Homo sapiens: one gene and its partners. The protein of the gene in region 3 interacts with the protein of the main gene of each other region in a pairwise test. Each region holds a gene or a part of one and is shown on either strand. Other genes may lie near its edges. The genes, in order: FHL5, MAL, NPDC1, HINFP, CPT1A, PLSCR1 and KRTAP4-1.

The links.
Region 1: the proteins of NPDC1 (region 3) and FHL5 interact in binary tests that used the Homo sapiens proteins (3 or more experiments, as listed by UniProt).
Region 2: the proteins of NPDC1 (region 3) and MAL interact in binary tests that used the Homo sapiens proteins (3 or more experiments, as listed by UniProt).
Region 4: the proteins of NPDC1 (region 3) and HINFP interact in a two-hybrid assay, tested with the Homo sapiens proteins (one study listed by BioGRID).
Region 5: the proteins of NPDC1 (region 3) and CPT1A interact in a two-hybrid assay, tested with the Homo sapiens proteins (one large-scale study listed by BioGRID and IntAct).
Region 6: the proteins of NPDC1 (region 3) and PLSCR1 interact in a two-hybrid assay, tested with the Homo sapiens proteins (one large-scale study listed by BioGRID and IntAct).
Region 7: the proteins of NPDC1 (region 3) and KRTAP4-1 interact in binary tests that used the Homo sapiens proteins (3 or more experiments, as listed by UniProt).

What each region holds. Positions count from the first base shown.
Region 1 is NC_000006.12:96,600,623-96,604,846, forward strand, and holds part of FHL5 (four and a half LIM domains protein 5), read left to right. Parts: intron 1-430; exon of another isoform or gene 431-530; intron 531-2,979; 5' UTR 2,980-2,991; coding exon 2,992-3,150; intron 3,151-4,127; coding exon 4,128-4,224. UniProt on the Homo sapiens protein: May be involved in the regulation of spermatogenesis. Stimulates CREM transcriptional activity in a phosphorylation-independent manner.
Region 2 is NC_000002.12:95,045,973-95,050,196, forward strand, and holds part of MAL (myelin and lymphocyte protein), read left to right. Parts: exon of another isoform or gene 1-175; intron 176-542; exon of another isoform or gene 543-806; intron 807-1,303; exon of another isoform or gene 1,304-1,986; coding exon 1,987-2,154; intron 2,155-3,608; coding exon 3,609-3,734; intron 3,735-4,224. UniProt on the Homo sapiens protein: May be involved in vesicular trafficking from the Golgi apparatus to the cell membrane. Plays a role in the maintenance of the myelin sheath, and in axon-glia and glia-glia interactions.
Region 3 is NC_000009.12:137,038,696-137,043,634, reverse strand, and holds the end of NPDC1 (neural proliferation differentiation and control protein 1 precursor), read left to right. Parts: intron 1-561; coding exon 562-708; intron 709-2,447; coding exon 2,448-2,573; intron 2,574-2,650; coding exon 2,651-2,821; intron 2,822-2,897; coding exon 2,898-2,964; intron 2,965-3,036; coding exon 3,037-3,121; intron 3,122-3,198; coding exon 3,199-3,278; intron 3,279-3,567; coding exon 3,568-3,664; intron 3,665-3,770; coding exon 3,771-3,863; 3' UTR 3,864-4,172; downstream 4,173-4,939. UniProt on the Homo sapiens protein: Suppresses oncogenic transformation in neural and non-neural cells and down-regulates neural cell proliferation. Might be involved in transcriptional regulation.
Region 4 is NC_000011.10:119,127,523-119,131,746, forward strand, and holds part of HINFP (histone H4 transcription factor), read left to right. Parts: intron 1-828; exon of another isoform or gene 829-926; intron 927-3,133; coding exon of another isoform or gene 3,134-3,202; coding exon 3,203-3,432; intron 3,433-4,012; coding exon 4,013-4,124; intron 4,125-4,224. UniProt on the Homo sapiens protein: Transcriptional repressor that binds to the consensus sequence 5'-CGGACGTT-3' and to the RB1 promoter. Transcriptional activator that promotes histone H4 gene transcription at the G1/S phase transition in conjunction with NPAT.
Region 5 is NC_000011.10:68,775,659-68,779,882, reverse strand, and holds part of CPT1A (carnitine O-palmitoyltransferase 1, liver isoform), read left to right. Parts: intron 1-4,224. UniProt on the Homo sapiens protein: Catalyzes the transfer of the acyl group of long-chain fatty acid-CoA conjugates onto carnitine, an essential step for the mitochondrial uptake of long-chain fatty acids and their subsequent beta-oxidation in the mitochondrion.
Region 6 is NC_000003.12:146,520,260-146,524,483, reverse strand, and holds part of PLSCR1 (phospholipid scramblase 1), read left to right. Parts: intron 1-2,430; coding exon 2,431-2,651; intron 2,652-2,778; coding exon 2,779-2,940; intron 2,941-4,224. UniProt on the Homo sapiens protein: Catalyzes calcium-induced ATP-independent rapid bidirectional and non-specific movement of phospholipids (lipid scrambling or lipid flip-flop) between the inner and outer leaflet of the plasma membrane resulting in collapse of the phospholipid asymmetry which leads to phosphatidylserine externalization on the cell surface.
Region 7 is NC_000017.11:41,183,404-41,186,875, reverse strand, and holds KRTAP4-1 (keratin-associated protein 4-1), read left to right. Parts: upstream 1-1,964; 5' UTR 1,965-2,021; coding exon 2,022-2,462; 3' UTR 2,463-2,776; downstream 2,777-3,472. UniProt on the Homo sapiens protein: In the hair cortex, hair keratin intermediate filaments are embedded in an interfilamentous matrix, consisting of hair keratin-associated proteins (KRTAP), which are essential for the formation of a rigid and resistant hair shaft through their extensive disulfide bond cross-linking with abundant cysteine residues of hair keratins.

The DNA of each region.
Region 1 (4,224 bases), on a different chromosome or scaffold from region 3:
GAGTGTGTATCATTTATATAGTTATAATACCTCTATTTTTAAGAAACACTATTTGGATGTATTCAAAGATCAATAGTTAAATGATAGACTTCATGAAAATGAGGAATGAATTTCTTAGTGTATTTTTTCTAACCAAGAAGAAGAGGATAAACATTCAGTTTGCTCACTTACCTCAAATTACATTAACTATTACTAAGATACGAGCTATAAGATAATCCAGACTCCTTGAGTGGGCAGGGAGTTCAAATCACTAAGTAAATATTCAAGAAATGTTGACCTGAACCAAATGCTTCCTCCCACTGTATAGTCCTACAAGTATAAAATCACAAGGTTTTGAGATATTAGACTGATTCTGTTCTCACCCTACCCAACTCCCTGATGTTGCTTTTACAAAACAGAATTGAATAAGAAGTGAATTTCTTCTTTCCAGAGGCCAGGCGCGGTGGCTCACGCCTGTAATCCCAGCACTTCGGGAGGCCGAGGTGAGCGGATCTTGAGGTCAGGAGATTGAGACCATCCTGGCCAACACGGTAAAATCCCATATCTACTAAAAATACAAAAATTAGCCAGGCACGGTGGCATGAGCCTGTAGTCCCAGCTACTCAGGAGGCTGAGGCAGGAGAATGGCTTGAACCCGGGAAGTAGAGGTTGCAGTGAGCCGAGATCACACCACAGCACTCCAGCCTGGGCAATAGAGCAGGACTCTGTCTCAAAAAACAAAACAAAACAAAAAATTAAGAAATATGGTCTATATTGTAAGGCATTTTCTGTGGATCCAGGCCTGTTATGTAATTAGGACTGGGGTGGGAGAAGGACCGTCTTGTCTTATATTTAGACTTCTGATCTGATCACTAAATAAGTTACAGGTATTTTGATGTTGTCATGTTTAAAGTGTCATTTAAAATAAACAATTGAAATATTATCAATTTGGTAATCCCTTTTGTGGTTTTATATGTTTTATATATTCATTTTATAATACACTAAAAGCCTCACAAAATGGCAGTAGACTGCAGTTCCTAACCCCTGAGGGGCCGTGTTTCATGATGCTATTATACACATCTAAAACTAAAATAAATATTAATGAAAACGACGTTTTCCATATTAAGTGAAGAGAGTTAAAGGTACATATTTTATTTCTATAAAGTGACAAACACTTGATCGCTGTAAATGTGAATACAACTTTTATTTTTAAACCTTTCAAGGGAATTAGATCTATTTTCCTGCTGTTTCCAAGCCTTCGGTAACCCTCTGAGTGTGTTTGTATTCACTAGGAAGGAACATTTCTGTGGAATTAATCAAATGGAGAATTCAATGTTCCTTTTAGATAATTTTGGCCATGTTCCATTGCGAACTTTCTAGTCTGCATTTCATCTCTTTCCTGGGAAAAGACCCACATATTCCAAATCCTCTGCCTTTTCTCTACTTGTTAGTGAAGAACAATATAGCAAAACTGCTATGTACAGAATTAATAATCATGTGCATTCAGCAAGGCTCTCTGCTGGGAATTTCATCACTAGAATAAGGCAAAACGCATGAGAATAAGAGTTCAAATGTAGTCAGTACAAACTAGTATCAAAAACTCTGTTGTATTATCGTTAATTGCTCCTCTGATTTTGCTAAAATTAAAAGAAAAATTATGTGGGGGGAGAATTAGAAAATATTCAAAGCTCCTAATATATTCCAGTAAACCCTGAGATGACAAATCTCATTTTCCAAGGAAAAGCAGTGCTAATTTTTTTTTGTAACAACAAAGAATTCATGTTCAATGCCTAATTAAAACCTGGAAATCTATATGCGTTGTTTCTTTTTTTTTTTTTTTTTTTTTTTTTTTTTTTTTTTTTTGAGACGGAGTCTGGCTCTGTCGCCCAGGCTGGAGTGCAGTGGCACAATCTCGGCTCACTGCAAGCTCCGCCTCCCGGGTTCACGCCATTCTTCTGCCTCAGCCTCCCGAGTAGCTGGGACTACAGGCTGTGCATTGTTTCTTAATGGCTTTCCAAATTTACAAAACAATCAGAGTCCTTATCTATCACTGGCTTTATGTTTCATATCAGCTTTTTTATTCATCTTACAGAATGCATTTTGCCTTGCAGATGAATTCTAGCTATTTTATCCATAGCTATAATGGAATAGCTGCTGCTATTATTTATGCTCTATACATGTTACTTTGGCCCTAAAGCCTGAAGGAACCCATTGTTGTTTTCTACCACTGATGATTTTATCTGCACTTCTGCATCTGGGCAATTGTTCACAATAGTCACAAAGACCTAGCACTTGGTCTGAGAATCCTACCTGCTGAGGAGTTTTATTTGGCCAGTTTGGTAAAGGACATTTAAATGAAGATATCTAAAGCTAGCAGAAAACAGAGATTTTGGAGTCATCAGCACATTTGGGATGGTGGAAGCCACAGCCAAGGAGGGGATGTAGTACACGAAGACCTCAGGGTAAATGTGCAGAGCCCTTATTAGGTATTCAGTAAAGACTTGAGGAGTAAAAGAATGAACTAGAAAATGACAATGTACTGATTATTAATTTATATTTGAGTAAAAAAGACTGTTATTTCCATCAAAATCTGCCTCTAGAATTTTCCAGCAAGAAAGTAAGTGATGATAGTTATTAAAAGCCCTAGCAACAGTTTATATCCTTGAGGTAAAACCATCCTGTTTCAACAGATACCATATTCTCATTGAATTCCACATTAGCTTATGATAAACACAAGATGTTTTTCATAATCTAGATGCAGGTTTTATGCATTTTTTTTTAGCAAAACATACAGGGAACTGCCAAGATGGGAGAGTAATCTTTCCTAAATCACTCCAAATGTCACCATGACTATAAGCATACTTTCCTAAATTGGGGGATTTTTGCTTAAGAAAATATAAGTTCATTCAAATGCTTCACTCACATTATATTAAGGTTTCATCATTTATCCTATAAACAAAATTCTGCTTTTATATACATTAATCACTTTGTCATTCATAGGATCAAACCAAAATGACAACTGCTCACTTTTACTGTCAATACTGCACAGCATCACTTCTTGGGAAGAAATATGTACTAAAGGATGACAGTCCATACTGTGTTACATGTTATGATCGTGTATTTTCTAACTATTGCGAGGAATGCAAAAAACCAATTGAATCTGATTCTAAGGTAAGTCTCACCTCAATTTACAGAATTACTGCCTATGAACAGCAAACAAGTGGGTTGGAGTGCCTCTTTTCATTTAGTGTTGACTTTCAACACTATTTCTCTGCTACTGGATATATAAGGATCTTAAAAGTTACCAGCAGTCAAGCTCCAGCCACTACACTTAGCACTATGAAATACAACATATGCTTAATCCTCACATGATCTTCTAAGGTAGCTGAGAATGCTAAAGATTAAAGGGGTTAAGCTATTTGTCCAAAGTTACACAGCTAGAATTTTCCTGCTGTTTCCAAGCTCTCAGTAACCTTCTGGGTGTGTTTGTTATTTCTGGAATGACAAGGGTATAAATAAATGCATAAAGAATTGAAGTTGAAAGGATTCAAAATCTGTTTTCTGATGTAAAATCAGCTTCATTTCTTACTAAACCCTATTGATACCTCTCACACCTACCACCCCTTCCTCCGACATGCTTATTCTTTCTTTCTTTCTTTCTTTCTTCTTTTCTTCCTTCCATCCTCCGATTATTTTCCTCTCTCTTTCTCTCTCTCTCTCTCTCTCTCTCTGTCTCTTTCTTCCCTCTTTCTGCCTTTGTTTTACTTAGGTGATGTTATTTTTTGTCTGTTTAGTTACATCTCAAAGAGTAATAGAACATTGCACCCTAAAATTTTTAAAAATCATTCCATGAAAAACCTCTATTATAGTTTATAAAAAGAATATAGGCAAATTTTGAAGACACAGCAGAGAATGTATTTGTTTTTTCCCAGCTGCCTTAAGTGACCCACCAAGAAAGCCCTGGGCTCTAGCTCTTAATTACCCCAGAGAGTCTCCTCTCTATGGGTAACAGTTTCAGTAACAACTTTCCCTCACGCTACTAGCACAACCTACTGACATGAGAGTCCCAGGAGTGTTCAGTTTTGTTTCATAAAATGGCCTGTATTGTCACAACCACATTTAATTAACTTTTATTTACTGTCTCAAAGGATCTTTGTTACAAAGACCGGCACTGGCATGAAGGATGCTTCAAGTGCACCAAATGCAATCACTCTTTGGTGGAAAAGCCTTTTGCTGCCAAGGATG
Region 2 (4,224 bases), on a different chromosome or scaffold from region 3:
CCTTCAGGCAACCTAAGATCCATCAGCAGAGGACGCTTTCTGGTCAGAGATGCCCACATCTGATTCCTTAGGGACAACTTGGTTTTAATAAATCCAAAGTCTTCATTGCACTGATTTTTCTACCCAAATGCAATTCTCTCCTGATTGCTTCTCAGTCAAGCAGCTCAGAGAACACCTGTGAAGACAGCGGTATCTCTCACCCAGCAGGTGGGCAGCAGGTGCAGGGAGGTGGGGGGGTCAAGGTGCTATGTGAATTCAAACCACAGGGGACATAGGCCTGGGAGGGCAGCCCCATCCTCAGCCCCCCAGACACTTCTGTAGTACCTTGGAGACTTTTGGCTGCAAAGGAATCTCCACATAGGCCTGGAGTGCTTCGAGCCCAGTCCTCATCCAAGTGGGGAACATGTGGATGAGGCTGAGCTGATTCTTACTGGGTGGGGGTGGCGCTGGGGGAGATGAGGAGAAGGGAAAGAGAAGTGCAGAAAGTCCCCGCTGGGGTTTGTACACGCCTGTCCACAGTGAGGAACGGAGTTTGTACGTACCCATCCGCGGTGGGGAGCGGGTTTGTATGTGTCCATCCACGGCGAGGAGCGGGGCTGGGCTACTGAGGGGTGCTACTGGCCCCCATGTCTGCTCCTCTTTGACTGTATGGGGCTCACTGACCCTGGCGACATCAACTGGGGTGTATTCTGGATAACCACGGGACTGTACTTTCCTCATGCCCATCCTCAGCCATCCAAAGAGACAAGGCTGTCCTTGGTTACTCCATTCCAACTCCAAATCTGATCATCAGAACACTTCCTGGACTTGGGAATATAAACAGTTGAATCCAGAAAAAGAAATAATGAGCAAGAGAAAGAAAGAGAGAGAAAGAGAAAGGGAGAGAGAGAGAGAAAGAGAAAGGGAGAGAGAGAGAGAAAAGAAAGAGAGAGAGAGAAAGAGAGAGAAAGAAAGAGAGAAAGAGAAAGAAAGAAAGAGAAAAAAGAAAGAAAGAAAGAAGAAAGAAAGAAAGAAAAAGAAGGAAGGAAGGAGAGGGAGGGAGGGAAGAAGAAATGAAGGAAAGAGAGAGAGAGAAAGAAAGGAAGGGCAGGGCAGGGGACTACTGACAGTGTGGTTAATTTGTTTTGCCAAATAAAGACCAAAAAGATCTGCTGGTCACTACCATTGCATAAAGGAAAGGACATTTTAATATCAAAGCAAGTAGGAGGGCTAGAATATCAGAAGAAATAGCAGCTCTTCTCATGACAATACCAAATGGCATAAATCCTTTCTCAGAATGATGAATTACTTAACTTCCACCTACCTCAGTTTCCTCATCTGGCAAACAGGTCAGCATTGCTCAGAGGGTTACTGTGAGAATCACTGAGTTATTATTTGTAAAGTGCTTAGGATAGTGCCTGGAATGTAGGTCTGATATAAGTGTTTGTTAAATAAAAAAATTAAACCCATATTTAAAAAGTTACTCAGGCCAGGTGCAGTGGCTCACGCCTGTAATCCCAACCCTTTGGGAGGCTGAGGAGGGCAGATCACCTGAGGTCAGGAGTTCAAGACCAGCCTGGCCAACATGGTGAAACCCCGTCTCTACCAAAAATAGAAAAATTAGCTGGGCATGGTGGCATGCACCTGTAATCCCAGCTACTCAGGAAGCTGAGGCATGAGAATCACTTGAACCCAGGAGGCAGAGGTTGCAGTGAGCCACACGCCACTGTACTCACGCCTGGGTGACAGAGCAAGACTCTGTCTCAAGAAAAAAAAGTTTTAAAAAGTTAATCAGGGCAAGCGTGCCGGGGATTGGGATTGAGATCCAGCACAGGGCCCTGGGGGGACTAAAGATGCATTTTTGCAGAGGAAAATGCCTGCCCTGTTCTCTTTGCCTGCTTCCTGTGTTTTTGCACTCCAGTCACCCCATGTGACCGCTGGTCGGGGGCCCTTCCTGGGCTGGGGCTCTCCTCTAGGCCAAAACTCACCCCTCCTCCTCCCCCGCAGATCTTCGGGGGCCTGGTGTGGATCCTGGTGGCCTCCTCCCTGGTGCCCTGGCCCCTGGTCCAGGGCTGGGTGATGTTCGTGTCTGTGTTCTGCTTCGTGGCCACCACCACCTTGATCATCCTGTACATAATTGGAGCCCACGGTGGAGAGACTTCCTGGGTCACCTTGGTGAGTCCAGCCCAGGGTGGCTGCTGGTTGTAGGGGGGCGCAGGAAGTACTGGTCCCTGGCCCAGTAGGATGGGCTTTTCCAGTGCCAGGTGAGACTTCTCCGTAGATGTCACCCCACCATGTTCCAAGGCTGAGCCTGCCCAGGGCTCCTGGCAGCAGAATCAGGAGAGGCAGGGGCAGAGGCAAGGTCGCCGCTGCCAACCCTCACTGGACCTGTTCTGTGTTCTCCTGCATGACTGCCTTTCCATGGATAACCAGCTGCCCAGCCCCCACACCACCTGTACCCGCCAGGTGCCTGCCTGCCCCTCCCATCACCTGCAAGGGCTGTTTTCACCTCAAGGCAGCAGGGCCCCAGAGGCCGACCAAGGTGTTGGGCTCCAGAAATTGGCCCTGGCTCTGAGGGTCAGGCCATGCTTACTGTCCAGCTCCTCAGCCACTGCCTTCCAAGCAGGGCTGCCAGAGAGCACTGGGAAACAGAAGCGGCCTTTGGTCATTATTCTGTATAAATTCTGCTTTGAGACCCATGAAAAGGTAACTTTTACATGTAGGACACTTGCCTGTTACCTGCTGTAGGGGTGGTGGGGCCATTTGGCCAAGGCTGTCACTCTCAAAAGCTCTGCTACTTAGACTTTTGAAATCACTTCCAAATCACAACTACACAAAACCCTGTTTTAGTACCTTTTTGCTTTCATTTATTACTTTATTTTGAGTTGGGGGTCTCATTCTGTCACCCAGGCTGGAGTGCAGTGGCGCAATCTCATCTCACTGCAGCCTCAACCTCCCAGGCTCAAGTGATCGTCCTGCCACAGCCTCCTGAGTAGCTGGGACTACAGGCATGTGCCACCACACCCAGCTAAGATGTATTGTTTTGTGTAGAAATGGGGATCTAACTATGTTTCCCAGGCTGGTCTCAAGTCCTGGCCTCAAGAGATCCTCCTGCACCAATCTCCCAAAGCTCTAGGATTACAGTCATGAGCCACCACGCCCAGCCCTTTTTTGCTTTTAAATATACCAGGGGCCAAAAATAAGCAATGAAACAAAACAAAACAAAACAAAACAAAACGAAAGAAACAGCATGGTCCTCCCTCACCCTGCACTGGTCAGCGAGGCCACACCCAACCTGGACTGTGGCCATGCACGACACTTCTCAGATCCAGGACCAGCTTTTCCCTGGGACACCCCAAGCTGCTGGCCCTTCCTCCACCTCTCCCTTGACCCTTCCTCAGGGGAGACCAGTGTCCCATCCCCAGCAAAGTGCTCACTCTGGCCCCACAGCAGTGAAGTGAGACTCAGCACAGCAGGGCAGGCATGGGACCTCCGTGACAAGGTTGGGAGGGGTGGGATTCAAAGGAAGTGGGGGGAGAGGCAAGGGGCGGGGGTGGAGGGGACCTCAGCTCTGCATCTGGGCCCCGTCTCTCTCTCCCCATCCCTCTGACACCCCGTCTGCCCCATAGGACGCAGCCTACCACTGCACCGCTGCCCTCTTTTACCTCAGCGCCTCAGTCCTGGAGGCCCTGGCCACCATCACGATGCAAGACGGCTTCACCTACAGGCACTACCATGAAAACATTGCTGCCGTGGTGAGTCCGGGCACCTGGGGCTGTGTCCACAGCGGGCGGCTCCGTGGCTGGCAGGGTGTGTGTGGAGGCTGCCTAGGCCCTTGGTCTGTTTTCAGTTCACTAACTTTTGAGTGAGGTCAAACCTTGCCTTCATGCCTGGAGCAGGAAAGCCCCCGAGAAGGGCAGTGTCATGTTGTGCCCAAGACTCCGCTTAGTCGTCCGGCCAGGGCTGCATGCCCCAGGCCTGCGTGGGCTTTGCAGAGGGCAGATGTGTGAGGGGATGCGGCTGCCCAGCGCCCTGTCCGAGTGCTCCCTGAACAATCTTATTTAACATCCATGGCAACCCTACAACCCAGGATTATGACACCCATCTCACAGATGGAGAAGTGGGGCCAGAGAGTGTGACTGGCCCAAGATCACCAGTCATTGTGGGACCTGGCATCAACGCTGGAGGCCCAGTCCCCACACTCTCAGCACCAGTTTGGGGCTGTGAGTCTGACCTCATGGGTCT
Region 3 (4,939 bases):
TCCATCTTAGGTGTCCTCGGTGCCTGGGGGACAAGCCAGAGGCTGGAGGAGCAGCATCCCTTCCAGGCTGCACACTTGTCAGTGCCGGGTTCTGGGGAGAGCCGCACGGGAAGGAGAGGTCGCTGGCGGCATCGTTTGCTGCTCCCCAGAGACAGACCTGGGCCCTTCCCTCTGGGACTCCCAATCTGGACGGGGTTCCTGGCTTGCTGTGGGGCATGTTGAGGCCGGAGGCTGGGCTTGTGGGGCTGCACGGCCCTGCCCAGGAGAACTCAGCACTGCCTGGACGGCGAGACTCAGCTTCTGAGCTGAGGGCTCTATCAGGCCTGGAAGTGGACCCTGGGGAGGGGTGGGGCAGGGTAGTTCTGATAAGTCCTAGGACTGTTCGCTTCCGGGTTCTGAGCCCTGGCGTCAGGGAGGAAGGGCATGTCCAGAACAATGGCCAGAACCAGGCCCGGCCAGCTCGGGGGGTGACGGGGGCGGGTGGCTGGGGCAGCGCTGCCGTGTGCAGGGGCCGAGCCCTGCGGGGCCGTGAGCCGGCCCTGCCTTCTGCTTCCTTCCCAGATGTAGCCGCCTGTCCCGGGAGCCTGGACTGTGCCCTGAAGAGGCGGGCAAGGTGTCCTCCTGGTGCACATGCCTGTGGGCCCTGCCTTCAGCCCTTCCAGGAGGACCAGCAAGGGCTCTGTGTGCCCAGGATGCGCCGGCCTCCAGGTACGAGAGCAAAGGGGGAAGTCGATGGGGGGATGTCCCTGCATGAACCTCTCCCTGTAAGAAGCGGCCGGCTGGGCGCGGTGGCTCATGCCTGTAATCCCAGCACTGTGGGAGGCCCAGGCTGTTGGATCTCATGAGGTCAGGAGTTCAAGACCAGCCTGGCCAACATGGTGAAACCCCGTCTCTACTAAAAATACAAAGTAGCCGGGTGTGGTGGCACACACCTGTAGTCCCAGCTACTCAGGAGGCTGAGGCAGGAGAATTGCTTTAACCCGGGAGGCGGAGCTTGCAGTGAGCCGATTCACCACTGCACTCCAGCCTGGGCGACAGTGCGAGACTCTGTCTCAAAAAAAAAAAAAAAAAAAAAGAAGGCCGGGAGCAGTGGCTCACGCCTGTAATCCCAGCACTTTGGGAGGCCGAGGCGGGCACATCATAAGGTCAGGAGATCGAGACCATCCTGGCTAACACGGTGAAACCCCATCTGTACTAAAAATACAAAAACAAAATTAGCCGGGCGTGGCGGCGGGCGCCTGTAGTCCCAGCTACTCGGGAAGCTAAGGCAGGAGAATGGCGTGAACCCGGGAGGCAGAGCTTGCAGTGAGCCGAGATCGCGCCACTGCACTCCAGCCTGGGCGGCAGAGCGAGACTCCGCCTCAAAAAAAAAAAAGCAGCAGCCTGCAGCCTCAATGCCCAGGCCTGTGCCAGGTGGTCTTGGGGCCCCTGGACCTTGTGGGGTGTTGGGTCCAAGGCCTGGGAGATCCTCATTCACTCTCCACGAAGCCTCCCATCCTTTCCAAATGGAGGTGGGCCCAGGCCTGGGGCAGTCAGGCCCTCCCAGGAGAAGGGCTGCACGATGTGAAATGCTGGGATGGCCACGGGAGAGGAAGGGCCCATTCTCCCCGGGCCTGGGCTCTGCAGGGTCTGCCCAGAAGCCCTCCAGGCCCCCACTTCCCCGTCCCCAGGCAGCTTGCTCTTTTCCACCACTCACTGTCCTGTCCGCCTGTTGGCAAATGTTGAAGGGTGCCAGCACTGGCTGGGTGCTGGGGATGCCCCGCTCGCCAGCCTGAGCCGCATCTGTCGGGATGGCCAGTCACTGAGTGACTTCAGGTGTGGTGAGGGCTTTGCTCAGAGGTGCTGGGGGTGGGAGCAGCAGCGGCTTCCTGGAGGAGGTGTTGAGAGGAGCACCGAGAAGTGGCTGTAAGGGTCTGTGTGGATGCACCTCCTGCCAACCTGGGAGCGTCCACCCAGACTGTGCAGCCCACAGTGGGTACCGGTGGAGCCCTGCCACCAGCCCCACCCCTGACAGCTGCCCCCGTTCTCCCAATGACCTGGGGAGGGGTCCCGGGTGCTTGGCTTCCTTCGGCTTCCCCCCACTCCTTGGGGAGTCCCTGCCCCTCTACCCGAGAAGGTGCTTGGAGGTGGGGAAGCAGAAGGGGCTGTGCTGGCCAGCCCTTTATGGACATGGGTTGGGGCGAGAGACCCCACTCCTTCCTCCCCGTGCCCGGTCTTTGGACGTTTCCCTAGCGCCTCCTCCCTTGCCCTGCCTCCACTTTCCGGGAAGCACTGCCCCTCACAGGAAGCGCCCGCGCTGTCACCATGGCAATCTGGGAGGGAGAGGGCCTCCAGGCGTGTACCCAGTCCTCAGGCTCCTGGGAGGAACCTGCCAGAAGCGGGGAGGCCGGGCCTGGGGCTACCTCCTGGACGGACCCCTCCACCTGATGGCCCCTCACCCTCCCCAGGCGGGGGCCGGCCCCAGCCCAGACTGGAAGATGAGATTGACTTCCTGGCCCAGGAGCTTGCCCGGAAGGAGTCTGGACACTCAACTCCGCCCCTACCCAAGGACCGACAGCGGCTCCCGGAGCCTGGTGAGACCCCCGCTTCCCCTGCCCCACGGCCCTGTCCCTAGCCCAGTGCTCTCATTCTAACCTGTCCTCTCTCGCAGCCACCCTGGGCTTCTCGGCACGGGGGCAGGGGCTGGAGCTGGGCCTCCCCTCCACTCCAGGAACCCCCACGCCCACGCCCCACACCTCCCTGGGCTCCCCTGTGTCATCCGACCCGGTGCACATGTCGCCCCTGGAGCCCCGGGGAGGGCAAGGCGACGGCCTCGCCCTTGGTAGGTCTTGGTCGGGGGTGGGCAGGGGCAGCAGGGCGCCCTGCAGAAGGCCGCCCTCACACGCCCCCTCCTGCAGTGCTGATCCTGGCGTTCTGTGTGGCCGGTGCAGCCGCCCTCTCCGTAGCCTCCCTCTGCTGGTGCAGGTGAGCCAGTGGCCGCGGGCAGGGCAGGGAGGGTGCCACACGCTCAGAGGTCTCAGGCCCCACTCCCCACAGGCTGCAGCGTGAGATCCGCCTGACTCAGAAGGCCGACTACGCCACTGCGAAGGCCCCTGGCTCACCTGCAGCTCCCCGGATCTCGGTGTGTGGCCCCCTTCAGCCCTGAGGCTCCCGCCCAACTCTGGCCGCCAACTGACCCTCGCCTCCTCCTTCCCACAGCCTGGGGACCAGCGGCTGGCACAGAGCGCGGAGATGTACCACTACCAGCACCAACGGCAACAGATGCTGTGCCTGGAGCGGTGAGTGGCCGCCCCGGCACTGCCACCCCCACCCACCCACCCCCCATCCCCACCTCCACCTCCATTTCCACCTCCCCTGGCCAACTTTACCCCAGGCCCTGCCACCCTCACCTGCACGCTAACCTTCACCTCCCCCGCCGCCCTGCACCCTCACCTCCCCTGGCCAACTTCACCCTGGGCTGTGCTCCCCTGCCACCCCAGGGCTGAGGTGGGCTGAGTGCCCACTTCCAGACTGGGCCACTGGCACCTCGAGGGCATGGGGAGGACCCAGCGATCCCCCCCCACCCAGGCATAAAGAGCCACCCAAGGAGCTGGACACGGCCTCCTCGGATGAGGAGAATGAGGACGGAGACTTCACGGTGTACGAGTGCCCGGGCCTGGCCCCGGTGAGTGCCTCAGGGTGCAGGGAGGGGCGAACCATCTCCTGGGGTTCCCTCCCAGCAAGTATCCCCCCAGCCCACCCACTGCCCAGCCTGACACCCACATTCGCAGACCGGGGAAATGGAGGTGCGCAACCCTCTGTTCGACCACGCCGCACTGTCCGCGCCCCTGCCGGCCCCCAGCTCACCGCCTGCACTGCCATGACCTGGAGGCAGACAGACGCCCACCTGCTCCCCGACCTCGAGGCCCCCGGGGAGGGGCAGGGCCTGGAGCTTCCCACTAAAAACATGTTTTGATGCTGTGTGCTTTTGGCTGGGCCTCGGGCTCCAGGCCCTGGGACCCCTTGCCAGGGAGACCCCCGAACCTTTGTGCCAGGACACCTCCTGGTCCCCTGCACCTCTCCTGTTCGGTTTAGACCCCCAAACTGGAGGGGGCATGGAGAACCGTAGAGCGCAGGAACGGGTGGGTAATTCTAGAGACAAAAGCCAATTAAAGTCCATTTCAGACCTGCGGCTTCTGCCTGTGTTGCCAGCTTGGGTTAATCTTCCACCGCCTCATCTCCCATTTGGGGCCCTGGTAGACGGACCCCTGAGTGGGGGGCCTGGGGTCTGCTCTTGCACCCCCAGAGGGAGGAGGCCTTTCTGTTCGCTCATTAGGAGGACCTTCCCATCCCGTGGAGCTGGAGGAGAGGCCACGGGATCATCCCCACCCTCCTCAGCCAGGCCTCACCCCTGCAGACCCTTCTACGCAGGTGGGAGAGGGGAAGGGTGTAGTGTAGGGCTGGGCCAGCCCAGGGTTGGCTCTGCGGCCCGGAAGACCCCATCCTGTGTGATAAAGAGGGCTGGAGCAGGTGATAGTCCACACGCACCTGGATGTGGGTGCCCACCACCTCCAGGCAGAAGGAAAACAATGCAGACATTGAGTCTGGGTTTCTCATGGGGACCACGGCCGCCAGGCCCTGCAGCACACGGAGGAGGGATGGCAGGCAGAGGTACCTGTGTGATACCAGCTATGCAGAGCCAGGTGGACCCAGGGGGCCAGGTGAGGGGTGTGATGGGAGGGGCCTGGACGCCTGGAGCTGGGACTTGGCCACTCCTAAATTTGGAGCAAGAAGGCCCCGAGGGAGGAAGGGGAATCATGTGGTCAAAAGTGCCCAGATCAGGCCAGTACCAGGTCAGCGTGCGGGGGCTGAAACTCTCTGTCCCACTGATGCTGGGGACGTAGGAGGACTGGGTTCAGAAGCCCCTCAGTGGTTGTTAGGAGTCTGGAGGTCCAGGCAC
Region 4 (4,224 bases), on a different chromosome or scaffold from region 3:
CTTTTACTGCAACCAGTCAGAAATACATCTTACTTTTTAGAGACAGGGCTTCATCTTGTCACCCAGGTTGGAGTCCAGTGTCATGATCATAGCTCACTGCAGCCTTCAACACTCAAGGGATCCTCCTGCCTCAACCTCCCGAGTAGTTAGGACTGCAGGCATGTACCACCACCACACGCCAATTTTTAAAAAAATTTTTTTTAGAGACAGGATCTTGCTTATGTTGCCCACTGATCTCAAACTCCTGGCCTCGAGCAATCCTCCTACCTTAGCCTCCTAAGTAGCTGGGACTATTGGCTTGTGCCACCAAGTCCAACCCCACTCCCACCTTCCAATTTTTTTTTTTTTTTTTGAGACGGAGTCTTGCTCTGTTGCCAGGTTGGAGTGCAATGGTTCGATCTCGGCTCACTGCAGCCTTTGCCTCCCAGGTTCAAGCAATTCTCCTGCCTCAGCCTCTTGTAGCTGGGACTACAGGCGCGCGCCACCACGCCCAACTAATTTTTGTACTTTTAGTAGAGATGGGGTTTCACCATGTTGGCCAGGATGGTCTCAATCTCTTGATCTCATGATCCGCCCACCTCGGCCTCCCAAAGTGCTGGGATTACAGGCGTGAGCCACCGCACCTGGCCCCATCTCTCACTTTTTAACCTTTGTCTGACTTATGTTTTAGGTATGCCTTTTATCAATAGCAAATAACTGGGATTTTAATAAAATCCAATCTGAAAACAATAACAATAGTGAACTGTATTCTATAGTACCTACTGTGTGTTAAGTATTGCTGGGTACTTTATTTTTTTTTTGAGATGGAGTCTCATTCTTGTTGCCCAGGCTGTAGTGCAGTGGTGCAATCTCGGCTCACTGCAACCTCTGCCTCCTCGGTTCAAGCGATTCTTCTGCCTCAGCCTCCCGAGTAGCTGGGATTACAGGTGCGTGCCACTACGCCCGTCTAATTTTTTTTTGTATTTTTAGTAGAGACAGGCTTTCACCATGTTAGCCAGGATGCCCCTGTTGGCCAGCCTGGTCTTGAACTCCTGACCTCAGGTGATCCGCCCGCCTCAGCCTCCCAAAGTGCTGGGATTATAGACGTGAGCCACCATGCCCGGCCAGTACTTTTTTAAACCTACATTAAAGCACTATTTCCCAAAGAGCCTATGAGATAGGCACTATTATTATTATTATTTATTATTATTATTTTTAGATGGAGTCTTGCTCTGTCGCCAGGCTGGAGTGTGGTGGTGCGATCTCAGCTCACTGCAACCTCCACCTCCCAGGTTCAAGCAATTCTACTGCCTCAGCCTCCCGAGTAGCTGGGATTACAGGCACATGCCACTATGCCCAGCTAATTTTTTTTTGTATTTTTAGTAGAGACGGGGTTTCACTGTGTTAGCCAGGATGGGATAGGCACTATTATTATACCCATTTTACAAATAAGGAAACGGAGGCACAGAGGAATAAAATAACTTGCCCAAAGTCACGGTACTAATAAGTGTGGCAGGATTTAAAAGAAAAAGGAAAAAAAAAACTTTTTTTCAGAGTAAGATGGAGTCTTACTCTGTTGCTCAGGCTAGAGTGCAATGGCATGATCTCGGCTAATTGCAACCTCCGCCTCCCGGGTTCAAGTGATTCTCCTGCTTCAGCCTCCCAAGTAGCTGAGATTACAGGTGCCCGCCACCACGCCCGGGTAATTTTTGTATTTTTAGTAGAGACAGGATTTCACCATATTGGCCAGGCTGGTCCCAAACTCCTGACCTTGTGATCTGCCTGCCTCGGCCTCCCAAAGTGTTGGGATTACAGGCGTGAGCCACTGCGCCCGACCAAAGCCACTTTTTTTTTAGAGACAGAGTCTTGCTATGTTACCAGGTTGATCTTAAACTCTTGGCCTCAAGTGATCCTCCTGCCTCAGCATGCTGAGCAGCTGGGACTATAAGCATAAGCCACTGCATCTGGCAGGAATACATTTTTCTTTTCTTTTTTTTTTTTTTTGTGGGAGTGCAGTGGCTCGATCTCCGCTCACTGCAAGGTCCGCCTCCCGGGTTCATGCCACTCTCCTGCCTCAGCCTCCCAAATAGCTGGGACTACAGGCGCCCACCACCAAGCCCAGCTAATTTTTTTTTGTATTTTTTAGTAGAGACGGGGTTTGACTGTGTTAGCCAGGATGGTCTCGATCTCCTGACCTCGTGATCTGTCTGCCTCGGCCTCCCAAAGTGCTGGGATTACAGGCGTGAGCCACCGCACCCGGCCCAAAATGTGGTTGATAGTTCACTGAACTGATTTCCTAACCCACTAGTGGGTCACAACACAGTCTGAAAAACTCTATTCTACAGGAAATATGGAGGCAGCTCTCCTTCTCCCACCCCAAATTCTGTTTTAAGTCTGATGACTATGAACCATAATTGATAGTTTCAAAATTCAAGTCATATTTATACAAAGGCAAAATTGGGGAATGATTATATTTTCTAAAGTATCTGTGTTTCAAAACAAGTTAACTTATATAAAGCGCTGAAAATACAGTGCTTAGGGATGCTAGAGAGATAGGAAATGGATTGGAAGAGTTGATGGGGCCTTCTTGGAGAAGGCAGATCTTGAGCAAAACATGAGGGGAAGGAGGAGTGGTGGTTTTACAAGGAGAAGTGGGAGGTGTCAGATCGAGAGGCAGCATCTTCATCAGGAACTGCAGAAACTCAAGTCAGAGGACTTGCGTGCCGGCCATTTCTGCTGTCTGTTTCTGGCATAGGCCTTGCACACACTCTCACCTCTGCCTAGACCACACTTCTTCACCTATTTACAGATACTCATCCATCGTACTTCAGAGTTCAACATGGGGACGTTTCTCAGAACACCATGTCAAATGACCTCTGTTTAATGCTTTTATAGCACCATGTATATCCCCGCTTTGTAACACTCATCACTGGTTGCAGTTTTATATTTATAGATCTGATTATTTGATGAATATGCTTTCTCCCTGACTGAAAGCTATGTGAGGGCAAGGAGTGGGACACTTTTTACTTGTTATAGTCCCTCTAACTGGCACACAATTTATGGTCATTAAATACTGGTATTTGCTAAATGAACCCTGGTAATTTGGTTAGAGTCCAGCCTCCTCACGAGTCCAGCCTCCTCACTCTCTGTTTAGTGCTGCAGGTGGAAGGTGACCTGAGCCTTGGAAAGTGTCAGACTCTTCCTTTTAAACCCCTTTCTACAGAGGAAGAATTCTCCTGCTTGTGGCAGGAATGTGGCTTTTGTTCTCTGGACAGTTCTGCTGACCTCATCCGCCATGTCTACTTCCACTGCTACCACACCAAGCTGAAACAGTGGGGGCTGCAGGCCTTGCAAAGCCAGGCTGACCTTGGCCCCTGCATCCTGGACTTCCAGAGCCGGAACGTCATCCCTGATATCCCTGACCACTTCCTGTGTCTGTGGGAGCACTGTGAGGTCAGCAGGCAGTGCCAGTAATTGGGGTGGAAGGAAGCTGGGGGTCTTAACTCTGATGCCTTGTCCCTTTCAGGGATGCCTTATATTTCCAAGATTCCTGCTAGTATCTCTCTTCCATTTCTTTTGCTCTTTTAAAATTTGTTTATTTTTTACACACAGGCTCTTGATCTGAAGCCCAGGCTAGAGTGCAGTGGTACAATCATAGCTCACTGTAACCTTGAACTCCTGGGCTCAAGCAATCCTCCCACCTCAGCCTCCCAAGTAGCTAGGACTACAGGCATGTACCACCATGCCCTGCTAACTTCTAAATTTTTTGTAGAGACAAGGTCTGGGTGTGTTGCCCAGGCCGGTCTCGAACTCTTGGCCTCAAGTGATTCTCCTGCCTCAGCCTCTCAAAGTGCTGGGATTACAGGGTTTAGCAACCGCACCCGGCCACTCCTCCATTTCTGTGCAGTGCCTTTCCTCAAAATTTCCCATCCCCATCAAGTTAATTTGGGAGAGAGCCAAGAATTCTTCGGGCACATAGGGGTGAGTCCCTCTACCCACCCTCAGTCCTCACCCCAAGTTGCCCCTGGCACAGAATTCCTTCGACAATCCTGAGTGGTTTTATCGGCATGTGGAAGCACACAGTCTGTGCTGTGAATACGAAGCAGTCGGCAAGGACAACCCGGTGGTGCTGTGTGGCTGGAAAGGTAGGGCTGCTTCTTAACTTGTGGCTTCTGGAGGAAACGCTGGGGTTCCTGAAGAGCTGGGACAGAAAGGGATAGGGGTCCTACAGGGGCAAGGTTGACT
Region 5 (4,224 bases), on a different chromosome or scaffold from region 3:
TTACCAGGTTATTTGAAAACCACAAACCCCTGTCCCCCTGCCTGCACCTGTGGATTGGCCTCTACCATTGTTTTTTTTTTTTTTTTTGAGACAGGGTCTTACTCTGTCACCCAGACTGGAGTGCAGTGGCACAATCATAGCTCACTGTAGCCTTGACCGCCCAGGCTCAAGACATTCTCCCACCCCAGCCTCCCAAGTAGCTGGGACTACAGGTGTGTGCCACCATGCCCAGCTAATTTTTGTATTTTTTGTAGAAACAAGGTTTCCCCATGTTGCCCAGGCTGGTCTTGAACTCCTGGGCACAGGGGATCTGCCTGCCTGGGCCTCCCAAAGTGCTGGGATTACAGATGGGAGCCACCACACTCAGCCTTTTTTTTTTTTTTTTTTTTTTAATAATTCGTTACTCTGAACTGTTTGACCTGTTCCGTGTTTGGCATGAGAAATTAAATGAAAGTTTTGTTTCCTTAACTCACCGGTCAGGTTCTTGTTTAAAGTTGCTAAATTCTAGGATCATCATCCGTAGACTTGACACAGAAAATACTGTGGTCACTTGTTGTGATGAGACTTGAGATCTTTTTCTTTTAAAGCAACAAGCCCCTTTGAGATTCACATTGACTATAAAGACCATCTTTTTGCAGTGTTTTAAATTTTCCTGCTGGCCTAATAAATGAAGTGGAATAAAATGACCTGAAAGTCACGGCGTGTGTGGGAGACAGGGCCCAGCTGCAGGCTGAGCACCTCGCTGTTCTTGATAGGGCATGGAGCCGGGTTTGTGTGTCTGAAATTAGAAATTAGTAGTGGCCAGGCGCGGTGGCTCACGCCTGTAATCCCAGCCCTTTGGGAGGCCGAGGCAGGCGGATCACGAGGTCAGGAGAACGAGACCATCCTGGCTAACACGGTGAAACCCCGTCTCTACTAAAAATACAAAAATTAGCCGGGCGTGGTGGCTGGCACCTGTAGTCCCAGCTACTCAGGAGGCTGAGGCAGGAGAATGGCGTGAACCCGGGAGGCAGAGCTTGCAGTGAGCCGAGATCACGCCACTGCACTCCAGCCTGGACGAAAGAGTGAGACTCCATCTCAAAAAAAAAAGAAAGAAATTAGTAGTAAACTTGTGAAGACATCATAATGTATGACCTTCTTTTTTCTTTAAACTTCTGTGAATGTTTTGAATTTTGACTTTTTTTTTTGAGATGGCGTCTTGTTCTGTCACCCAGGCTGGTGTGCAGTGGTGCGATTTCAGCTCACTGCCACCTCTGCCTCCCCGGTTCAAGTGATTCTCCTGCCTCAGCCTCCCGAGTAGCTGGGATTATAGGCACATGCCACCATGCCCGGATAATTTTTATATATATATAAACCTGACCTCAAGTGATCCACCCGCCTTGGCCTCTCAAAGTGCTGGGATTATGGCATGAGCCACCACGCCTGGCCTTGACGTTTCTTTTTATAATATTGTGTCTGTCTATTTTTCCCCCAAGAGATAAACAAATTCTGGTGCCAGTTTTTTCTTGCAAAGTCTTCGCACTCACTCTCCTCTCTGCCTGGAAGGCTTTTCCCCCTGGCTTCCCCTGGCTCCTGGCCCCGTCAGGTCTTCCTTAGGTCTCAGCTGACCTCACTTCCCCTAGGAATGGCACTGCCCTGCTACCCTCTCCCAAGACTAGGTTAGGGGCTCCTGTCTCATCTTCCTCTACCTCTTTTAATTGTCTTACTTCTGGTTGGAGTCTTGGCAAAACCTCCAGCCACTCCTTCAGCCAAGGGAGGTTTTCTATGTAGGAAAAAGGATAAAAAGGAAAAAAAAAAACATAGTGCTCTAGGCTTTAAGACACCAGTATGACCCTAGGACATTAATACCTGATAAAAAGCAGCCAATATTAAAAGGGCTTTTCACCACCACCAGGGTTCTTTGGCGATGTCGACAAAAGCTGAGAGAGCCTTTTAGCTACAGAGCGCATTGAAGATCAAGCTGCCTTCAGTGTCTCTGGACGTAGCAAGAAGGCACGCTTTAATAAATCTCTGCACAGCATAATAGCCCGGGCTTGTTATACCCCAGGCCAAGGACTTCCCGAGTCCTATATGCCTAAGAGCTGTTGTTTGGCAAAAGAAAAAGAGTCGGGACCATAGGCAGCTGGATCACACAGGGTACATTTATCAAGTAGAGAAATCTACTGGATATTTACAAGATCAGGCTTGTTTTTTAAAGTTCTCTGGATAAGGATAAAGGGATTTTATCTTAGACCAGGGTGGGCACGTAGAAGTAGTGGTGTTTAGTTGTTAGCGTCCAGCAGACAGGATGGCCTGACTCCAGGGACCCCTGGCTGGGGGCTTATGTGATCCATACACAGATGGGGACTGACCTAGTCTCACATGGGGGCCCAGTGCAGTCCCTTAAAGACAGATCTAGTCAAACTTGAGTCTGTTTGTTCTTGTTCTTGTTCTATTTTTATTTTTTATTTTTTGAGACAGGGTCTTGCTCTGCCACCCAGGCTGGAGGGCAGTGGTGCAATCTCAGCTCACTGCAACCTCCAACTCCTGGGTTCAAGTAATTTTCCCACCTCAGCCTCCCGAGTAGCTGGGACCACAGGTGTGCGCCACCACGCCCAGCTGATTTTTGTATTTTTTGTAGAGACGGGGTTTTGCCACATTGCCCAGGCTGGTCTCGAACTCCTGGCTTCAAACAATCTGCCTGCCTCAGCCTCCCAACATGCTGGGATTACTAACATGAGCCACCACACCCGGTCTTGCTCTTGATTTATTTCTGATGTTTCTGTGTCAGGCTCTTCTGGAGCTCTGACCCAGAGCAGGTGGAACCTGATCAAGTCTGTTCGTTCGCTGGCTCAGGTCAGCCTGGATTGTGACCCCCACGTATTAGCGGCACCTTCCACCCGCCCCGCCGCCTCGCCAGCCGACAGTCACCCCGACCTTGTGTTGTTGTTTTTACCTCCCTCACTAGAATGTAAGCTTCCTGAGCACAGGGATTCCTCTTTTAAAAAAACTTAATTTTTTTAGTTGAGATATAAGTCACATACCTTAAAATCCACCCTTTAAAAGTGTACAATTCAGTGGTTTTTAGTATATTCACGAGGTGCTTGTGCAACAGTCACTGCTTAGCCTCCCGAGTAGCTGGGATTACAGGCGTGCATCGCCACACCCACCTAATTTTTGTATTTTTGGTAGAGGCGGGGTTTCCCCTTGTTGGCCAGCTTGGTCTCGAACTCCTGACCTAAAGTGATCTACCCGCCTTGGCCTCCCAAAGTGCTAGGATTACAGTCGTGAGTCACAGAGCCCAGCCTAATTCTGTACTATTTTTATCACCTCCAAAAGAAATCCCTCATTCCTTTCTCCCCCAGGTTCCTGATGACCACTAATCTTTCTGTGTGTATGTATGTGCCTATTTTGGACATCTTATATAGATAGAATCATACAATATGTGGTCTTCTATGTCTGGCTTCTTTTTTCTTTTCTTTCGCTTTCTTTTCTTTCTTTTCTAGAGACAGGGTCTTGCTCTGTCGCTCAGGCTGGAGTGCAGTGGCACAGTCATGACTCATTGAAACCATGACCTCCTGGGCTCAGGTGATCTTCCCACCTCAGCCTCCTCAGTAACTGGGACTACAGCCATGTGCCACCACACCTGGCTAATTTTTAAAATTTCTTGTAGAGATAAGATCTCACTATGTTGCCCAGCTGGTTTGGAACTCCTGGCCTCCAGCAATCCTCCCACCTTGGCCTCCCAAAGTGCTGGGATTACTGAAGTGAGGCACCGCGCCTGCCTGCTTCTTTTCACTCAGCATAATGTTTTCAAGGTTCAGTACGTTGTAACACATACCTGGAATTCATTCCTTTCTAGGGCTGGATAATATCTCATTGTATGGATTGACCACACTTTGTTTATCTCTTCATCAGTTGATGGGCATTTGTGTTGTTTCCACTCTTTGGCTATTATGAATAATGCTGCTCTGAACATTCTGTACAAGTTTTTGTGTGAGCATCTATTCATTTCATTTCAGTGAGTATGTACCTAGGAGTGGAACTGCTGGGTCATACAGGTATATTTCACTTTTTAAGGAAGGGCAAGAATTCTTGTCTGTTTTGTTCACAAAACACAGTTCTTGTCTGCGCTGTCACCAGGGCTTGGATGCCGCTGATGCTACAGTGGTTCCAACCCATAGTAGGTGCCCAATAAACACCGTTGAATAAATTGGCTTAGGTTTACTTGCCAGTGAAAGGAGA
Region 6 (4,224 bases), on a different chromosome or scaffold from region 3:
TTTAATTATGCTTATTTTTCAAAAAAGAAATGTCTCCAGTTTTTTTTTTGTTTCTTTTTCTCCAAAATTGAAAGTCTATGTTATTTTTTCATGAGTGGTATAAAAAAGATGAAGATTACTCAGGTTTTTAGAATCTGAGCATAAACTAGGCACTTACTTTTTTTTCTCAATTCAAAACACAGAAGACAATAAAAATATAAACAATTTGTTTACATTTTTAAAGTAAATGAAAAGAAACTTAAAGGTTATGTAAACCAATGTTGTTTTACAAATAAGCTGGAGATTTTTGAGATTAAGCTACTTAATGTAACAATTAATTAGATAATGAATGTCCTCTCAAAATCAGCTTAACTTTTTTCTCATCAAACATTTGACTATTTCAGATGTTGAAATCAGACGTTGTTCCTATAAATGCAGAGTACAGGGTCTGTCTGTGTCCCACCAAGGACACTTAAAGGAGTTCATGGTGGTAAGACTTGTGAAGGCCGTCTTTATCCGACTCAGAGTCTTTCCACATAGGCATTATAGAGTGACTTTTCCTCCATATATTTATTTTAATCACTCATTATTTTAGCCAGGCTTCTGACATCTATGACCCCAGTTACTGAGGACTATGTACAAATGGGACAGTTATTGCTCCTTTCTGGCTTTAAATATGGAGAGGTTTCCAATGTATGGTTAGATATGGAAAGCCCTTGATACAAAGTATGTGAGTGTCAGCATTTTGCAGCCATCTGTTTCCCTCATGAAGATAGATTAGCCCAGCAAAGGTGCAGAGTTCACTTAGGATTCCCACGGTCTAGATATTCTGTGAGTTGAAGCCTTGGTTGCCGAACACGTTTGTCTAATACCCACCTCCCACTTCTGAACAACTACTGTTGAGTTGAATAAGGATGCCCTGGGTCCAATGTGACATTCTAATTCATCTTTCATTTTTACTCCCTCGGTTTTTATGCGTGTACATTGCCTTCTTTCAAAAGCATTGCAAAAAAATAAGACATAAGTAAGGTTTATAAGACAGTCTCAAACCAATTGATTTAATATAAAATTTCATAGCACATAAACAGCAATCCTCTTATATTCCCCTCCACATTACACATAAACTATCCTGCATTAGTGGACATTTTATCTATACACCTAGCACCACCGTGCCCACCCACAGCATTGCCCCAACTCTCAGCAGAAAAGTCTCTCTTCTGACAGACATTTATGGAATTAGGAAAATATAACTTGTTTCCAGTGTCTCACATAATGAAGGGATGGGTTGCCCCTCCACACTTGTGGGTGTTTCTTGTTAGGCGGAACGAGAGACTTGGAAAAGAAAAGACACAGAGACAAAGTATAGAGAAAGAAAAATGGGCCCAGGGGACTGGCATTCAGCATACGGAGGACCCGCGCCAGCACCGGCCTCTGAGTTCCCTTAGTATTTATTGATCATTATCGGGCGTTTCCCGGAGAGGGGGATGTGGCAGGACAATAGGATAATAGTGGGGAGAAGGTCAGCATGTAAACACGTGAACAAATGTCTCTGCATCATAAAAAGGTAAAGAAAAAGGTGCTGTGCTTTTGATGTGCATATACATAAACATCTCAATGCCTTAAAGAGCAGTATTGCTGCCAGCACGTCCCACCTCCAGCCCTAAGGCAGTTTTCCCCTATCTCAGTAGATGGAATATACAATTGGGCTTTACACCTAGACGTTCCATTGCCCAGGGACGAGCAGGAGACAGATACCTTCCTCTTATCTCAACTGCAAAGACGCGTTCCTTCCTCTTTTACTAATCCCCCTCAGTGCAGACCCTTTACGGGTGTCGGACTGGTGGACGGTCAGGTCTTTCCCTTCCCAGGAGGCCATATTTCAGACTATCACATGGGGAGAAACCTTGGACAATACCTGGCTTTCCTAGGCAGAGGTCCCTGTGGCCTTCCACAGTGTTTTGTGTCCCTGGGTACTTGAGATTAGGGAGTGGTGATGACTCTTAACAAGCATGCTGCCTTCAAGCATTTGTTTAACAAAGCACATCCTGCACAGCCCTTAATCCATTTAACCCTAAATTGACACAGCACATGTTTCAGGGAGCACAGGGTGGGGGGTAGGGTTACAGATTAACAGCATCTCAAGGCAGAAAAATTTTTCTTAGTACAGAACAAAATGGAGTCTCTTATGTCTACTTCTTTCTACACAGACATGGTAACAATCTGATCTCTCTTTTCCCCACGGCATAAGGACTTAATTTCTCTATACATTGGTAATCTCTCCTTTTTTTTGCCATTTTTCTCTGTCTGGATCATCTCTAAACATCATTTCTTCTCCTCCTTATGCCACTTGGGGTATCATCAAAAACTGGCATAGCTAGATATTATAATATCTGGATAAATTCAATATTTTTAACATAGAGGTGATTATGATTTCGTCTTTTATGTTTTTAGTTTTAACAGGTTTTGAAACTAATAACAAATATGAAATTAAGAACAGCTTTGGACAGAGGGTTTACTTTGCAGCGGAAGATACTGATTGCTGTACCCGAAATTGCTGTGGGCCATCTAGACCTTTTACCTTGAGGATTATTGATAATATGGGTCAAGAAGTCATAACTCTGGAGAGACCACTAAGATGTAGCAGCTGTTGTTGTCCCTGCTGCCTTCAGGAGGTCTGTGATCAATTACCAGGGCACTTTGTAAAATAGTTCAGCAAGAATTTCTGCCCTGTCATTGAACCTTTCATCGAACCTAGGCATTATGATTATTACATTTACATATATTATTTTGCCTTTGTAGATAGAAATCCAAGCTCCTCCTGGTGTACCAATAGGTTATGTTATTCAGACTTGGCACCCATGTCTACCAAAGTTTACAATTCAAAATGAGAAAAGAGAGGATGTACTAAAAATAAGTGGTCCATGTGTTGTGTGCAGCTGTTGTGGAGATGTTGATTTTGAGGTAAGAGATGTCATAATGTTTATAAGATTTGCTTTCCTAATATAAGAAGAATGTAATTTTGCAGGACATTATAAATGCATTAAATAAGTGTTGTGTGCCAATGTCTCAATAGCAAGATGATTTTCTCATTTATTTAACTTTGGGCAGAGTGGTAGTTATCACTCTGATTAAAGGTCACTGTTGGTCATGAGAAATGGAAAAAAAAGAAGCAGACCTATGTAGTCAAATAAAAATAAGCAAATCATCCCTCACTTAAACGTGGTGGTTTCTATGTGATGACACTGTATATTATCCATTTTAAACAGAACGTTAACCTTGCCATCTAAGTCTGATTGCCAAAGCATATGGATCCTTCTTAAATCTGAAATATCATCTGCCAATGCTCAAGGCCATGTTCAGAATGTCTGACATCTTTGAATTCCTACAAGAAGCCCAATTATGCAAAGATAGTTTTGAGAAAATTAGTATAATATGTACTACCCAGTTATGCTTCTCTGTGGTCTCTCCTTTTCCCTATATTAAATTAGGTCACTAGAAGCTGCAACATATTAATATTTGTATATTTACTGTAATACATTGTAGAATTTCATTAGAGTAGCTCTTCAACAACAGATGGTCTACTTTTACAATCCAAATTTTTTCATTGCAAATGTTTAAAAATCAGAAGGTTTTATAACTTAATCTTGATTTCTTGTTTCTCTTGGAAAATCAGAAAATTGGGTTAACTGGGCCCACCTTTCCAACAAAAGGGTAAAAATCTACTAAAGATGTGTGGGGCTGCCCCTTGTAATAATGACATGGGAACTCTACCACTGTCTCCACCCCTTACTGAGGTTTTTCAATATCCAGTGTCATTCATTTATGTGATCTGCCTGCCTTCTTTAATCACATGGTATTTTATTCCTCCGTCAGACTTTAGCTATATAAAGATGAATCCTTTCCCCCATTGACTTCATAATCTAATGACAGAGATTTGCAGTTCTAAGGAGGATGTGATATAGAAACTTTAAAAAGGCTCTTATAAGGGGATTATATAATGTGTGTATGTATATGTGTGCATAATATGCATGTATAAAAATTTTATGTAAGGGTATGCATAATAGCAGTTCTTCATGTAAGGGATGGAATCTCTGTCCTACATCCAGAGAAGTGAAAAGTAATTTCTCATTCAAGGAACAATATTAACAGAAGTTTGGCTGGCATATATTTTATTTTTAGTAAATAAATGAAAACACTGGAAAAACATTGTGTAATCCTTGTATTTGATACTAAAAAATTTATGTT
Region 7 (3,472 bases), on a different chromosome or scaffold from region 3:
GGGTTATCTCTAAGCTGTCTCCCCTGCCTTCAGACAGAGAGGGCTATTTCTAAACAAACAAGTGACCATAGAACTGTGGCTCAGTTAGACCAGAATCCCAAGCCTATGATACCTGCACTTGCTTTGACCTTGATAGTGACTTCCTTATGATACATTAATTATGTCTGCAAAAATATTAATATTCTTGTTGTCATAAGAAGTTGGGCTACATTCAAACTAAGTGCAAAGAAAAAAACCTGTTATAAATAGACAGGAAGGTGATAAAACTGCAATCATAGCAGAGGCTTTAAACATACTATTTCAAAAACGGTCATTTGAAGAAGAAAAGTAAACAAAGATATGGAGAATTTGAGTAAAATCATTATCAACTTAGACACAATGGATATTTTTATGCCATTTTATGCCTAACGAACTGAATTTTCATAATTTTTATATATACCCCAAATAGTCATAAAATATGTCCATAAAAATATATTCTAAATATGTTCTTGTATCCTTCCTTCCATCCCCTCTTCCCTCCTTCCTGAATAACTCAGTCTAAATAGAAAGTAGGTGTCTGCATGGGATAGGGATGGCCTAAAGAGATAACATTCTTAATTTCTTTTTTTAAAAATTAATGTCGTCTTGCACTTATAGAAAAATTGCAAGAATAGGTCAAAGAGGTTTCTTTGGTGATAAAAAGAAAGTGATGCTTCACTGCCTCTGAGCACTAGTGTGTGTTGCCTACATCAAGGGCTTTCCCCTCCGTAAACACAATAGAATTTAAAATCAGGCTTTATTCTTGCAAACAATGTTGCAAAGAATACCCTTGAACTTACATCTTGGAAGGTATGTATAGGTGCATCTGTTGAATACATTTCTAGAAGTGAAAAGGCTCAATCAAAACACACGCACATTTCAAAATATGCTAAATTAATTTAAGATACTGTTAAATTTCAGATTCTGTTAATTACCATCTAAAGAAGTTGCCTCAATTTAGATCCCTGCCAACTGTGTATTAAAATGTCAATGTCTTTATAATTTCACCAATTTATTAAAGTTTTTAAACTTAAATATTTTACATTTGTCATTACAAATAGCAAGTATTCACTGCCATATCCCGAGAGCATGCAGTAGAACCTGGCACACAGTAGGTATTCGGTAGATGGTTTGATGAGTGAATAAGTTGTTCAATTAAAATACCTTAAATTATGAGTGAGACTAAACATCTTTCAGAAGCTCAAAAGGCACTTAAATTTCTTTTTTTAGTGAAATCACTGTTAATATCCTTTACTCAATTTTCTGTTTGGTTGTTGTTGTTGTTGTTTTTCTCATTGGGTTGTAAGAGGTATTCATGGATTAAGAAAATTAGCTCATTTATTTGTAGATTGGTTAAGGTATTATTATTTATTTTCAGCTTACTCTTTAGCCTTCTTGTTTTTCAATCAGGCATTTGAGTTTTTTTCTGTTGTAAATTTTTTTCAATCTTTTTCTTCATTGTTGTTAAGTTTTTCTGTATTAGAAAATCCACTCCACTTCTAATATTTTAAGACAATTTCTGCTGTTTTCTTCTAGTTGTTTCACAGTTTATTTTTCTCAGAAGAATCTTCAGAAAACAAGAAACATCATCCCATTTGAGGACTGCTGTGAGACACACAGTTTTCAGGATGACACACAGAATGCTGAGTTCCAAGTGATCTGTCACCTGACAATCGACTGGATGAGTAAGATTACAAGTCTTTGAAATTAAATGACACACTAAATTAACTGAAGACAAGAGGAGGAGGAAAGACTGGATTGGCTAAACTCTAACACAGAGAAAGAATAAAAGTGCATTCCACCTTTTATACAGATATTTTCCCACAATTAGCTAACTTGATAATTGCCTATCTATTAAGATAAACAATAACAAGGAAATAGCTTTTATGTGGTGACAACAGCTCCTCAGCTGAGTATAAAAGTGGACATGGGATAAGGAGATTCCCACATTCGAAAAACTCACTGTCTTGGAAACCTACCTAGAACCTCCACCCTCTGACACCATGGTTAACTCTTGTTGTGGCTCTGTCTGCTCTGACCAGGGCTGTGATCAAGGCCTCTGCCAAGAGACCTGCTGCCGCCCCAGCTGCTGCCAGACCACCTGTTGCTGCCCCAGCTGTGTTGTATCCAGCTGCTGCCGCCCATCCTGCTCTCAGACTACCTGCTGCCAGACCACTTGCTGTCGCCCCAGCTGCTGCCACCCAGTCTGTTGTCAGACCACCTGCCGCCCCAGCTGTGGTGTGTCCAGCTGCTGCCGCCCACTCTGCTGTCAGACCACCTGCCACCCCAGCTGTGGTATGTCCAGCTGCTGCCGTCCACTCTGTTGTCAGACCACCTGCCGCCCCAGCTGTGGTGTGTCCAGCTGCTGCCGTCCACTCTGCTGTCAGACCACCTGCTGCCGTGCAACTTGCTGCCGCCCCAGCTGCTGTGGATCCTCTTGTTGAACCTCATATTGGACTATCAACCATGAGCCAGTCACCATCCCATGATATGAAAGTGTCATTTATATCAACTTGTCCATGTGTTAAATGGCCATCAGCTTTATTATCCTGTTATTCCACTAAGTAACTGGTGAAAGGGCATCCATCTACATTTAATACCACTCATTTTTCCCATGGATCTCTTCCCAGCAGCATTCAGACCTCAGATGCATGATGCAGTTAGACTAAGCCTCTAAGTTTCTGACTGTTATGCTTGATTTGACCTTCAAAATTACATATTAACTGTTCTTCAATAAATATTATCTTAATATCAGTAATTCTTTTCTCTTTTTTCAATTTTTTTGAGAATTAGTTGTCAGTTTATTTTTTAGCATTACTTCTCTCAAGATAAAGACAAATTTGGGTTACCACGACCAGGAAAGAAAACTGATTTTGTAAATATAATGTAATGCTTATATTATAGAAAGGACTTCATAAATTTTTCAAAATAAGATAACTCGCTGTATTTAACTAACAAAAGTTTCTTATTCAGTCAATGAAATTATTGATCATCTGTCATGTTCATTGCACTGTTGGGCTCTGGAGATCACATCAAGATATGTGAGGCACAGGAGCTTCCTAAAAGGAGCTCACCGTCTAATCTTGGAAATAAGAGGAAAGAGCAAAGTAGATAGATTGTGCTGGGTAGTACTGATCAGAGGAGAACTTTCTGTCTTGGGGAAGAGTAAGACATTAGGAATATACATATACACACATTTAATAATAGAATGAGTTAAGTTGGTACAGGGAAGATGTGCAGGTCACAGACCCATGAAATGAAGAGGAGGAAAATATAGGAAAATGTTTACATTCTTATGAGGACAAGACTGAGATGAGCTAAGAAACAGTTGGTGTTGACCAAATTTGGTGGAAGTTAAACCTCACTGGCCTCATCCCATCACCTCTATGTTAATGGTACTATACTAAAAGTCATAGGCAAATGAGAAAGCTCTTAGTCAAAGATGGAGCCACAC